Linked DNA regions of Homo sapiens. The protein of the gene in region 1 purifies or fractionates together with the protein of each later gene. This does not show direct contact. Each region holds a gene or a part of one and is shown on either strand. Other genes may lie near its edges.

The links.
Region 2: the proteins of KIF3B (region 1) and GOLGA3 fractionate together in Homo sapiens (co-fractionation; one large-scale study listed by BioGRID). This does not show direct contact.
Region 3: the proteins of KIF3B (region 1) and IFT172 fractionate together in Homo sapiens (co-fractionation; one large-scale study listed by BioGRID). This does not show direct contact.

What each region holds. Positions count from the first base shown.
Region 1 is NC_000020.11:32,315,612-32,319,262, reverse strand, and holds part of KIF3B (kinesin-like protein KIF3B), read right to left. Parts: intron 3,046-3,651; coding exon 2,944-3,045; intron 2,737-2,943; coding exon 2,614-2,736; intron 2,508-2,613; coding exon 2,389-2,507; intron 1-2,388. UniProt on the Homo sapiens protein: Microtubule-based molecular motor that transport intracellular cargos, such as vesicles, organelles and protein complexes. Uses ATP hydrolysis to generate force to bind and move along the microtubule. Plays a role in cilia formation.
Region 2 is NC_000012.12:132,808,316-132,811,966, forward strand, and holds part of GOLGA3 (golgin subfamily A member 3), read right to left. Parts: intron 3,568-3,651; exon of another isoform or gene 3,472-3,567; intron 235-3,471; coding exon 1-234. UniProt on the Homo sapiens protein: Golgi auto-antigen; probably involved in maintaining Golgi structure.
Region 3 is NC_000002.12:27,487,522-27,491,272, forward strand, and holds the start of IFT172 (intraflagellar transport protein 172 homolog), read right to left. Parts: upstream 2,223-3,751; 5' UTR 2,133-2,222; coding exon 2,094-2,132; intron 1-2,093. UniProt on the Homo sapiens protein: Required for the maintenance and formation of cilia. Plays an indirect role in hedgehog (Hh) signaling, cilia being required for all activity of the hedgehog pathway.

The DNA.
Region 1 (3,651 bases):
GAGGCCGGGCATGGTGGCTCACACTTGTAATCCTAGCACTTTGGGAGGCTAAGTCGGGCAGACTGCTTGAGCCCAGGAGTTTGAGACCAGCCTAGGCAACATGGTGAAACCCCATCTCTACAAAAAACACAAAAATTAGCCAAGTAGGGTGGCATGCCGCTATAGTCCCAGCTATTCCAGAGGTTGAGGTGGGAGGATCGCTTGAGCCCAGGAGGTGGAGGTTGCAGTGTGCTGAGACTGCACCTCTGCACACCAGCCTGGGTGGCAGAACGAGACTGTCTCAAAGAAAAAAAAAAAAAAGAAGATGTGGAGAAATTGGTGGTAGAAATGTAAAATAGTGCAGCCACTGTGGCAAACAGTTTGGCATTCTCTCAAAAAGTTAAACACTGAGTTACCATATGACCCAGCAATTCCACTCCTATGAATGTATCCCAGAGAAATGAAAACACACATCCATACAAAACCTTATACATGAATGCTTATAGAAGTATTATCCATAATAGCCAAAGACTAGAAATAATCGGAATGTATATAAACTGAAAAATAAATAAATATGTGTCCTATTCATACAGTGCAATATTATTCAGTCATAATAAAGAACAATTGATGTTGGGACTACCAGATATCTGTTGATCCATGCTACGGCATGGACGATCCTTGAAAGCGTCATGCTAAGCAAAAGACACCAGGCCAAAAAGGCCACACAGTGTGTGATTCCATTTATATGAGATGGCCAGAATAGGCAAAGCCATAGAGACAGGAAGCAGATTAGTGATTACTTCGGGTTGGGAAAGGGGGTAATGAGGAGTGACTACTAACTGGTAGAGTTTCTTTTAGAGGAGAGTAATAAAAATGTTCTAAAATTAGATTGTAGTGGTGGTTTTATAGCCCTATGCATATATATGCTTTTAAAAAAACACTGATTTGTATACTTTATCATTTTTTAATTTTTTTTTTTTTGAGACAAGAATCTCGCTGTGTCACCCAGGCTTGAGTAAAGTGGTGTGATCTCAGCTCACTGCAACCTCCGCCTCCCAGGTTCAAGAGATTCTCCTGCCTCAGCCTCCTGAGTAACTGGGATTACAGGTACACGCCATCACACCCAGCTAATTTTTGGATTTTTAGTAGAGACGGGGTTTCACCATGTTGGCCAGGCTGGTCTTGAACTCCTGGCCTCAGGTGATCCACCTGCCTCGGCCTCCCAAATGCTGGGATTACAGGCATGAGCCACCATGCCCGGACTGATTTGTACACTTTAAATATGTGAATTGTATGGTATGTGAAGTATGTCTCAATTAAGCTTTTTTAAAAACAGTATTGTGGGCTGGGTGTGGTGGCTCACACCTATAATCCCAGCACTTTGGGAGGCTGAAACAGGAGGATTGCTTGAGCCTAGGAGTTTGAGATCAGCTTAGGTAACATAGAGAGACTCTATCTCTATAAAATTTTTTTTAAAAATTAGCTGGGCATAGTGGCACACACCTGTAGTTCCAGCTACCCGGGAGGCTAAGGTGGGAGGACTGTTTGAGCCCACAAGTTACAGGCTGCTGTGAACTGTGATTGTGCCACTGCACTCCAGCCTGGGTGATAGAGCAAAACTCTGTCTCAAAAAAAAAAAAAACCACTGTGATCATATATATATATATATAAGTATGTAGGAGTGAGATAACATGAGGTTAAGATTTGCTTTAAAATATTTTTGTGAAAGATAGATGGCAAAAGCTTGTTAATCCTTGAATCTGGGTGATGGGTACTTGGGTATTTATTATACCATTCAGAAAATTGTCACAATAAAAAGTCAAGTTAATAAAATATTCCCTCTTATCATCAGACAGATGTAAGACCAGAATCTTTAAAAGCTTCGAGAAGGTAGGGTTAGAAGGGAACTTGGAGATCACCTGATGAAGTCATTCAGTTAACAGATGGGATCCAGAGATGGAAAGTGACTTTTTCAGGAATGAACAGAACATGGGGTGGCAGGAGATGAGCTGGAGAAGGACCTGTCCTCAGGGCTATTTCTTTTTTTGTGTTTTTTTCTCACTCCGTCGCCCAGGCTGGAGTGCAGTGGCACGATATCAACTCACCGCAATCTCCACTTCCCGGGTTCAAGCGATTCTCCTATCTCAGCCTCCCAAGTAGCTAGGACTACAGGCATGCACCACCACGCCCAGCTAATTTTTGTATTTCTTAGTAGAGACGGGGTTTCACCATGTTGGTCAGGCTGGTCTCGAACTCCTGACATCAGGTGATCTGCCCGCCTCCGCTTCCCAAAACACTGGGATTACAGGCGTAGGCCACCAAGCCCAGCCAGGGCTGTTTCTAACTAAACAAACGAGATCAATGACTCAGCAAGTGGCTTGGGGGCACTATGGAAGGCCTGGCACTTACTTGAGTTTCAGCTCCCTGGTGAGCTCATTCTGAGTCTGCTCTAGCTCTTGGCGCTCCTTGATGTGTTCTTCTTGGAGGTCATGGATCTCAGCCTTCACTGCCTGAAGCTTGGAGAAGAGCTGGAATGAGGGGAGAGGCAGGTGAGGAGGGTGTCTGTCCAAAGGGTAGAGTTCTCCCTTTCCCCAAGTCTCAAGGCAACTCCATCTGGCCTCATTCCTTTCATACCTTTTTGAGTTTTTTGGTCTTGATGTCCACCTCTTGCTGCAATGAGCTGTATGTCTCTTTAAGTTCCAAGGTCTCCTCATCTCGACTTTCCATCTGTTGCTGGATTTCTCTTTCTCGACGTTTCTGAGCAACATGACAAAATTCATCAGCTTGCCCTAGAGACTGTGTCTATGCTGGGTTCCCCAAGCTAGGATCAGAGTCTCCAGCTAGGATGAGGCAGACACACCTTGCTCTCATTCTCTTTGAAGAGAGTCTAATATGAGACGTTTGCTCTGCAGCATAAACACACCTTACCTCACCCATTCTCCCTGAAAAAGAATGAAAAGTTACCTGCTCTGCAATTTCCTGTCGTTTCTGCTCCAGGATTTTCTGCTGTTCATTCGTATGATCTACTATATTTTTTCCTCCAACAAGCAACTTACTCTCCATGGCCTGAGTGAGAAACAAAGTAGAATCCATCTCATGAACGGTTTCTCTCAGAACATAATTCCTCACAGGGGAGCCTGTGAAAGATAAAGAGCTCAGGACTGAGCCAAAAGGGACAAACTCTGGGAAAAAATACACTGTGCTCAGCTGTGCCCATCCATCACTGGTGAGGGACTGGGGCAGCTTCACTAGAGGCTTCTTGGTAACACTGAAGATACAGTTTCTTCAGATACATGAATTTCAGCTTTAACAAATTTTTTTTTTTTGCTTGTTTCTACAAAGTATTAACCCCACTTAGAACATATTAAGCAGACCCTTTATGTTAGGTCCTGGGGATGCAATGTGAGTGTGAATCACAAAGCTCCGAGTCCACTGAGGAAAACAGACAAGCAAGCAGGCTTTAACCATATGGCGCCAGATGCCATCATGAGGAAAGGACACAGTAATTCATGGGAGAGGCACACTGATGGGATAGAATTCAGACTCTGTGGGGATTTTTTAAAATTTTTTAAAGACAGGGTCTAGTTCTGTCACCCAAGCTGGAATGCGGTGGCACGATCACAGCTCACTGCAGCCTTGACCTCCTTAGTTCAAGCAATCCTCCCACCTCAG
Region 2 (3,651 bases), on another chromosome or scaffold:
AGTTCTGTAATCGGCCAGAGACCGGATTTTGCTTGATTTGGAAGTTTTTTTCTCCCTAGGATGTGCCGGAAGCCCCAGGCTGCCCACCTTAGGCCCCCGAGGGACACTGGTGCGCAGGAAGGAATATTCTTTTGTCATAGCCAGGGTACTGGCCCTTGGTAAGTTTTCTGGGTTTAACATGAGCTCAGGATCAAGCGTGCTAAAAAGTCTCGTTTTGGTTGCAGGTTGACTGGACTGAGAAGAAAACAAAAGTACAAAAATTACATTTAAAATCCACAAGCAGCATACTTAAAACTGCCATTCAGAAAGGTGGCACCGATCACTACTCCCTCCGCTGACAACCAGAGAGCACCACCTCCCCAGCCCCTCACCACACAGGGTGCGGCCAGGCCTCCGATCCGTGGTGGTCTCACTGCCGCAAGGCCCCACTCTAGTGACCAGCATGACCACCTCTGGTCTAAAGCACACTCTTCAGTGACTGTGACCTCAACACGTTTAAAACACATCCCAGCAAGTACCTCCTCATCAGACTTCTGTAGGGACCAGCCCCACAGGGTCAGTGGGTCTCCCCCTGTGTGCGGCGACGAGAGTGTAGAAATAAAGACACAAGACAAAGAGACAAGAGAAAAGGCAGCTGGGCCTGGGGGACCACTACCACCAATGCGCGGAGACCGGTAGTGGCCCTGAATGTCGGGCTGCGCTGTTATTTATTGGATACAAGGCAGAAGGGGCAGGGTAAAGAATGTGAGTCACCTCCAATGATAGGTAAGGTCACGTGGGTCACGTGTCCACTGGACGGGGGCCCTTCCCTGCCTGGCAACCAAGGCAGAGAGGGAGAGGAGACACAAAGACAGCTTACGCCATTATTTCTGCATATCAGGGACTATTAGTACTTTCACTAATTTACTACTGCTGTCTAGAAGGCAGAGCCAGGTATACAGGATGGAACATGAAGGCAGACTAGGAGTGTGACCACTGAAGCACAGCATCACAGGGAGATGGTTAGGCCTCCGGATAACTGCGGGCAGGCCTGACATCAGTCAGGCCCTCCACAAGAGGTGGAGGAGCAGAGTCTTCTCTAAACTCCCCCGGGGAAAGGGAGACACCAACCCCCACCCCCGCCCCCCCGCCCCCCGGTTCCCGGTCTGCTAAGTAGTGGGTGTTGTTCCTTGACACCTTTTGCTACCGCTGGACCACGATCCGCCTGGTAACGGGCGTCTTCCCGTCTTCCCAGACACTGGCTTCACCGCTAGACCAAGGAGCCCTCTGGTGGCCCTGTCTGGGCATAACAGAAGGCTTGCACTCTTGCCTTCTGGTCACACCTCACTATGTCCCCTCAGCTCCTATCTCTGTATGGCCTGGTTTTTCCTAGGCTATGATTATAGAGCGAGGATTATCATAATATTGGAATAAAAAGTAATTGCTACAAACTAATGATTAATGATATTCATATATAATCATATCTAAGATCTATATCTGGTGTAACTATTCTTGTTTTATATTTTATTATACTGGAACAGCCCGTGTCCTCTGTCTCTTGCCTCGGTGCCTGAGTGGCTTGCCACCCACAGACTTCCTCAACAGAACTTTCCTGGCTACTCTCCAGTTTATTTTATTTTTTTGGATAAACATAGAAATTTTCTTCAAGGCCGGGCGTGGTGGTTCACACCTGTAATCCCAGCACTTTGGGAGGCTGAGGCGGGCAGATCATTTGAGGTAAGGAGTTCAAGACCAGGCTGGCCAACATGTTGAAACCCCCGTCTCTACTAAAAATACAAAAAAATGAGCCAGGCATGGTGGCACACACCTGTAATCTCAGCTACTTGGGAGGATGAGGCAGGAGAATCACTTGAACCCAGGAGGTGGAGGTCGTAATAAGCCGAGATCATGCCACTGCACTCCAGCCTGGGTGACAGAGTGAGACCCTGTCTCCAAAACAAAAAAAAATTTCTTCAAAAAGGAAGAACATTCTGTTGAACTATAACCACCTTAAATCCATAATTTCCTCCGCCTGCCCACATCTGCTTGCACGTGTGGGCGGCAAGCCACCCAGGTGCCGAGGCAAGAGACTGAGGACGCGAACTGTTCCAGTATAATAAAGTATATAAAATAAGAATAGTTATACCAGATATAGATCTTAGATATGATTATATATGAATATCATTAATCATTAGTTTGCAGCAATTACTTTTTATTCCAATATTATAATAATCCTCACTCTACAATCATAACCTAGGAAAAACCAGGCCATACAGAGATAGGAGCTGAGGGGACACAGTGAGAAGTGACCAGAAGACAAGTGCGAGCCTTCTGTTATGCCCAGACAGGGCCACCAGAGGGCTCCTGGGTCTAGCGGTAACGCCAGCATCTGGGAAGACGCCCATTGCCAAGCAGACCATGGTCTAGCGGTAGCATCAGTGTCAAGGAAAAACACCCACTACTTAGCAGAGTTTAGAGAAGACTCTACTCCTCCACCTCTTGTGGAGGGCCTGACGTCAGTCAGGCCCGCGCACAGTTATCCGGAGGCCTAACCATCAACCTGTGATGCTGTGCTTCAGTGGTCACACTCCTAGTCTGCTTTCATGTTCCATCCTGTACACGTGGCTCTGCCTTTTAGATAACAGTAGCAAAATTAGTGAAAGTACTAAAAGTCTCTGATATGCAGAAATAACGGCATAAGCTGTCTCTCTCTCTCCCTCTCTCTCTACCTCAGCTGCCAGGCAGGGGAGGGCCCCCTGTCCAGTGGGCACGTGACCCACGTGACCTTACTTATCATTGGAGATGACTCACACTCTTTACCCTGCCCCTTTTGCTTTGTATCCAATAAATAACAGCACAGCCTGACATTCGGGGCCACTACCTGTCTCCACGTCTTGGTGGTAGTGGTCCCCCCGGCCCAGCTGTCTTTTATCTCTTTGTCTTGTGTCTTTATTTCTACACTCTCTCGTCTCCGCACACAGGGAGAAAACCCACTGACCCTGTGGGGCTGGACCCTACATGCACGCCCCTCAACAGAGCAGCTACCCCACCCCCATCTAGAACCCAGGCCCTCTGCGGCCATTCTAACTTATTTCTCAGTTTATCCTTTTTGTTGTTATAAATGTTATACTTCCCACTAATCTTACAACTGCTAGGATAACTCTTCATTTTTCATACTTGCATTTTTATTTTTTTTTTGAGATGGACCCAGGCTGGAGTGCAGTGGTGCAATCTTGGCTCACTGCAACCTCTGCCGCCTGGGTTCAAGCGATTCTCCTGTCTCAGCCTCCTGAGTAGCTAGGATTACAGGGGTGTGCCATCACATCCGGCTAATTTTTTGTATTTTTAGTAGAGACGGGGTTTCTCCACGTTGGCCAGGCTGGTCTCAAACTCCTGACCTCAAGCAATCCGCCCGCCCCACCCTCCCATAGTGCTGGGATTATAGGTGTGAGCCACTGCACCCAGCCAGATTAAAGTATTTAAAAACATAACCTTAAAGGTATAAGAAGAACACGCTGGTCATTTTATTGATCTTCTTCTACTGAAGAGATCCTTTTGAAACATGACATAGGCTGGGCGCGATGGTGGGTGCCTGTAGTCCCAGCTACTCAGGAGGCTGAGGCAGAGAATCACTGGAACCTGGGAGGTGGAGGTTGCAGTGAACCGAGATCG
Region 3 (3,751 bases), on another chromosome or scaffold:
CCCAAAAAGATTAAGTAATTTGCCCAAGTTCACATATACAGTTTGTAAGTGGTAGGACCATGATTTATTTATTTAATTAATTTATTTTTTGAGGCAGAGTCTCGCTCTGTCACCCAGGCTGGAGTGCAGTGGTGCGATCTTGACTCACTGCAACTCTGCCTCCTGAGTTCAAGCGATTCTCCTGCCTCAGCCTCCCGAGTAGCTGGGATTACAGGCATGCGCCACCACATCTAGCTAATTTTTGTATTTTTAGTAGTTTCACCACGTTGGCCAGGATGGTGTCGAACCCCTGACCTCGGGTGATCTGCCTGCCTCGGCCTCCCAAAGAGCTTGGTTTACAGGCATGAACCACTGCGCCTGGCCTAGAACCATGATTAAATCCATGTATGTGTAAATCCATAAACCATAATCCCAATTTCTTTATTAAGGTACCCCAGTACATATTACACACTCAGTTATGGAACATCTTATTTATTTTTAAGACACAGCCTCACTCTGTCACCCAGGCTGGAGTGCAGTGGTGTGATCACGTCTCACTGCAGCCTCGACCTCCTGGGCTCAGGAGATCCTCCCACTTCAGTGACCCCAGCAGCTGGGCCTACAGGTGCTTGCCACCACACGAGGCTATTTAAAAAAAATTTTTTTTTTTTGGACAAAGTCTCACTCTTGTCCCCCAGGCTGGAGTGCAGTGGCACGATCTCGGCTCACTGCAACCTCCACCTCCCGGGTTCAAGCGATTCTCCTTCCTCAGCCTCCTGAGTAGCTGGGATTACAGGCGGCTGCTGCCACGCCCGGCTAATTTTTGCATTTTTAGTAGAGATGGGGTTTCACCATGTTGGCCAGGCTGGACTTGAACTCCTGACCTCAGGTGATCCGCCCGCCTCGGCCTCCCAAAGTACAGGGATTACAGGTGTGAGCCACCGCACCTGGTCAAAATTTTTTTGTAGAGGTCTTGGAATCTTGGGCTCAAGTGATCCTCCCACCTTGGCCTCCCAAATTGCTGGGATTACAGGTGTGAGCCACTGGGCCTGGCCAGACATCTTATTCTTATTAGCTTTGTATTATTCTGTCCTTTGAATTTTGAATGTCCTTTCCTCTTGTCTATCAATTTTTCACACTGCTTTTCAGTTTACAATGCTCTTTTGTGTATATTACTCTATATAACTCTTCCCCAAGTCCCCTAAAGTTGCTATTAGTACTCATGTTTTTTCAAATGAAGAAGTTGGTGAGTGCTCCGAGACATTGTATAATAAAGGCTAAAGTTAGAGATATCAGGTCATTTGTTTAAAGTACTGGTGGCCAGTCTGGGCAACATGGGGAAACCTCGTCTCTACAAAAAACAAAAACAAAAACAAACAAAGAAACAAAAAATTACCCGGGCGTGCTAGCGCACGTCTGTAATCCCAGCTACTTGGGAGGCTATGGCAGGAAAATCCCTTGAACCCGGGAGGCGGAGGTTGCAGTGAGATCGAGCCACTGCACTCCAGCCTGGGCAACAGAGCAAAACTCTGTCTCAAATAGTTAAATAAAGTAGTGGTTGACCTGAAATAAGGACAAGGTAAGAAATTTTAAAAAGAAAATAAGAAAGTAGTGGTGGAGCTAGGACTTAAATTCTGGTGTGCTAACTCCAAAGCCCACCCTTTCTTCACCATGTTTCAGGGCTCCTCCCCTAGTGCCCAGCCTCTCCTGAATCAGAATACACGGTTCGGTCTTTGCACTCCCCCTTCAGGGCTTGCACCTAAGGCGCTTATTTAATTATGGGCACATGCATACTCGCTGCTTACATGTGCACCTCACCCTCTAATACGAGCCTCCTGAAGGGAGGGACATAAGTCGGGTGGTTTGGGATTCCTACGAACCCCAGCATGGGGCCTGTACACAACTGATGTGAATGAAATGTAAGGAAAGCTACAAGTCCTTAGCCCTGCATCTCGCCTCCTGGACGCTGTATCGACAGGCCAAGATCCAGATCATCGCTATATCCCTTACAGCCTTCTGCACACAGTAGGAGGTCAACATCATTAAACTTCAGTTCCCCCACTTTTCTTGGAACATAAAGCATAAGGGGGAGGGACTGGCACGCAATTCCTCACCTGAGGGCTCAGCAGGGTCCTCAGGTGCTTCAAGTGCATGACGCACACCTGTCTTTCAGATGCTCCTAGACAGCGACAACTCCCGTGGTTACCTGGACAACCCGCCACGCAGCCGCAGCGACAGGCACTGACGCTTATGCGACCGGAGCGCAACACGCGTCGCAAGGTCACACGTAACTTTGCGGCGAAGCAAACAGAACGTGCGCAAGCGCGGTGAGATCTAGGGCGGGCCCTTGAGAGGGCTTCATGAATGTTCTCCTTGACCAATCCCGTCGCCGCATGCAAACTCAAGACCAAGCCCCGCCCACAAGCCTTCAGCCAGCCCCAGGTCCTACGTCATAGCGGTCCGTCTCGCTCTTCGATGTACCTGACTTTCTGAGTGCACTCTCTTAATCCTCACAACTCTGGAGGGAAGCAGGGCGGTTTCCATGATAGGCCTTCTGCAGTTGACGGAATTGTACCCAAATAGGTTACATGATTTGCACGGGATCGCAAGGCTAATAACGATAGCTAACGATGAATACTCAGTATGTGTCTGCCAGGTACTGTGTAAAGTATTGTACGTGCATTTATATCATTTAATCCCAAAACCACCTTTTGAAGGGGATAGCGTTATTATTAGTCTCATTTTACATAACAGGAGACTCAGGGCACTTGCTCAAACTAACACAGCCAGCGAAGGACTTGGAACTGGAGTTCAACCCAGAGTTAGTAGCTTTAAACAGCTTTTATGTTCCTTCTCAACTCCTAGCTCGCTCTCTCCATGCCACGATACTATAACCTGTCACATTCCCATCCCAATAAATGACATTTATTCTCAGAATCTGGAAGATGAGTGTTTTGGAACTAGCTGCCAAAGAAACGTAAGGTACCCTACTTCCTAATTGGGTAATGGTGGGTTAAAGACTGCTGTTTACATTGGAATGTTTTTATGGTTCAGTTTGTTGTTGTTGTTGTTTTGAGACAGAGTTTCACTCTTGTTGCCCAGGCTGGACTGCAATGGCGCGATCTTGGCTCACTGCAACCTCTGCCTCCCGGGTTCAAGAGATTCTCCTGCCTCAGCCTCCCAAGTAGCTGGGATTACAGGCATGTGCCACCACGCCCGACCAATTTTGTATTTTTAGTAGAGACAGGGTTTCTCCATGTTGGTCAGGCTGGTCTCAAACTCCCGACCTCAGGTGATTTGCCCGCCTTGGCCTCCCAAAATGCTGGGATTACAGGCGTGAGCCACCGTTCTCGGCCTGTGGTTCAGTTTTGAGGGCAGACCTGACTTGGCTCACCCGATAGGTTGTCTTGTGATACCTGGGGTTAGAGATTGGTTAAGTAGAAAAGAGACTGACTTGTTGATCTTTGGAGTCCCGTTCAGAATTTTTGGCCTATCTTCTAACATACCAGAGAGATTGAAATGCAGAAAGGAGTTATTCATAAGCCTGCTCTGAAATGATCCAAAGTTGGGAAGATCTGTAACTCTCCAGGAAGTGTAACATATGCTCTCCAGACAGACTGTGGGTCCAGAAGCCTTCCCCCACAGTGGTTTGCAAGTGTCAACAGGTGTTTGTCTCATGGCCACCAACCACCCCTTAGAAAATAGGAAAGAGCAGAGGACAGCCCCTATTTTCACAGGAAACAAGTAGGCCTCAGAGCTCAAATGAGAATTA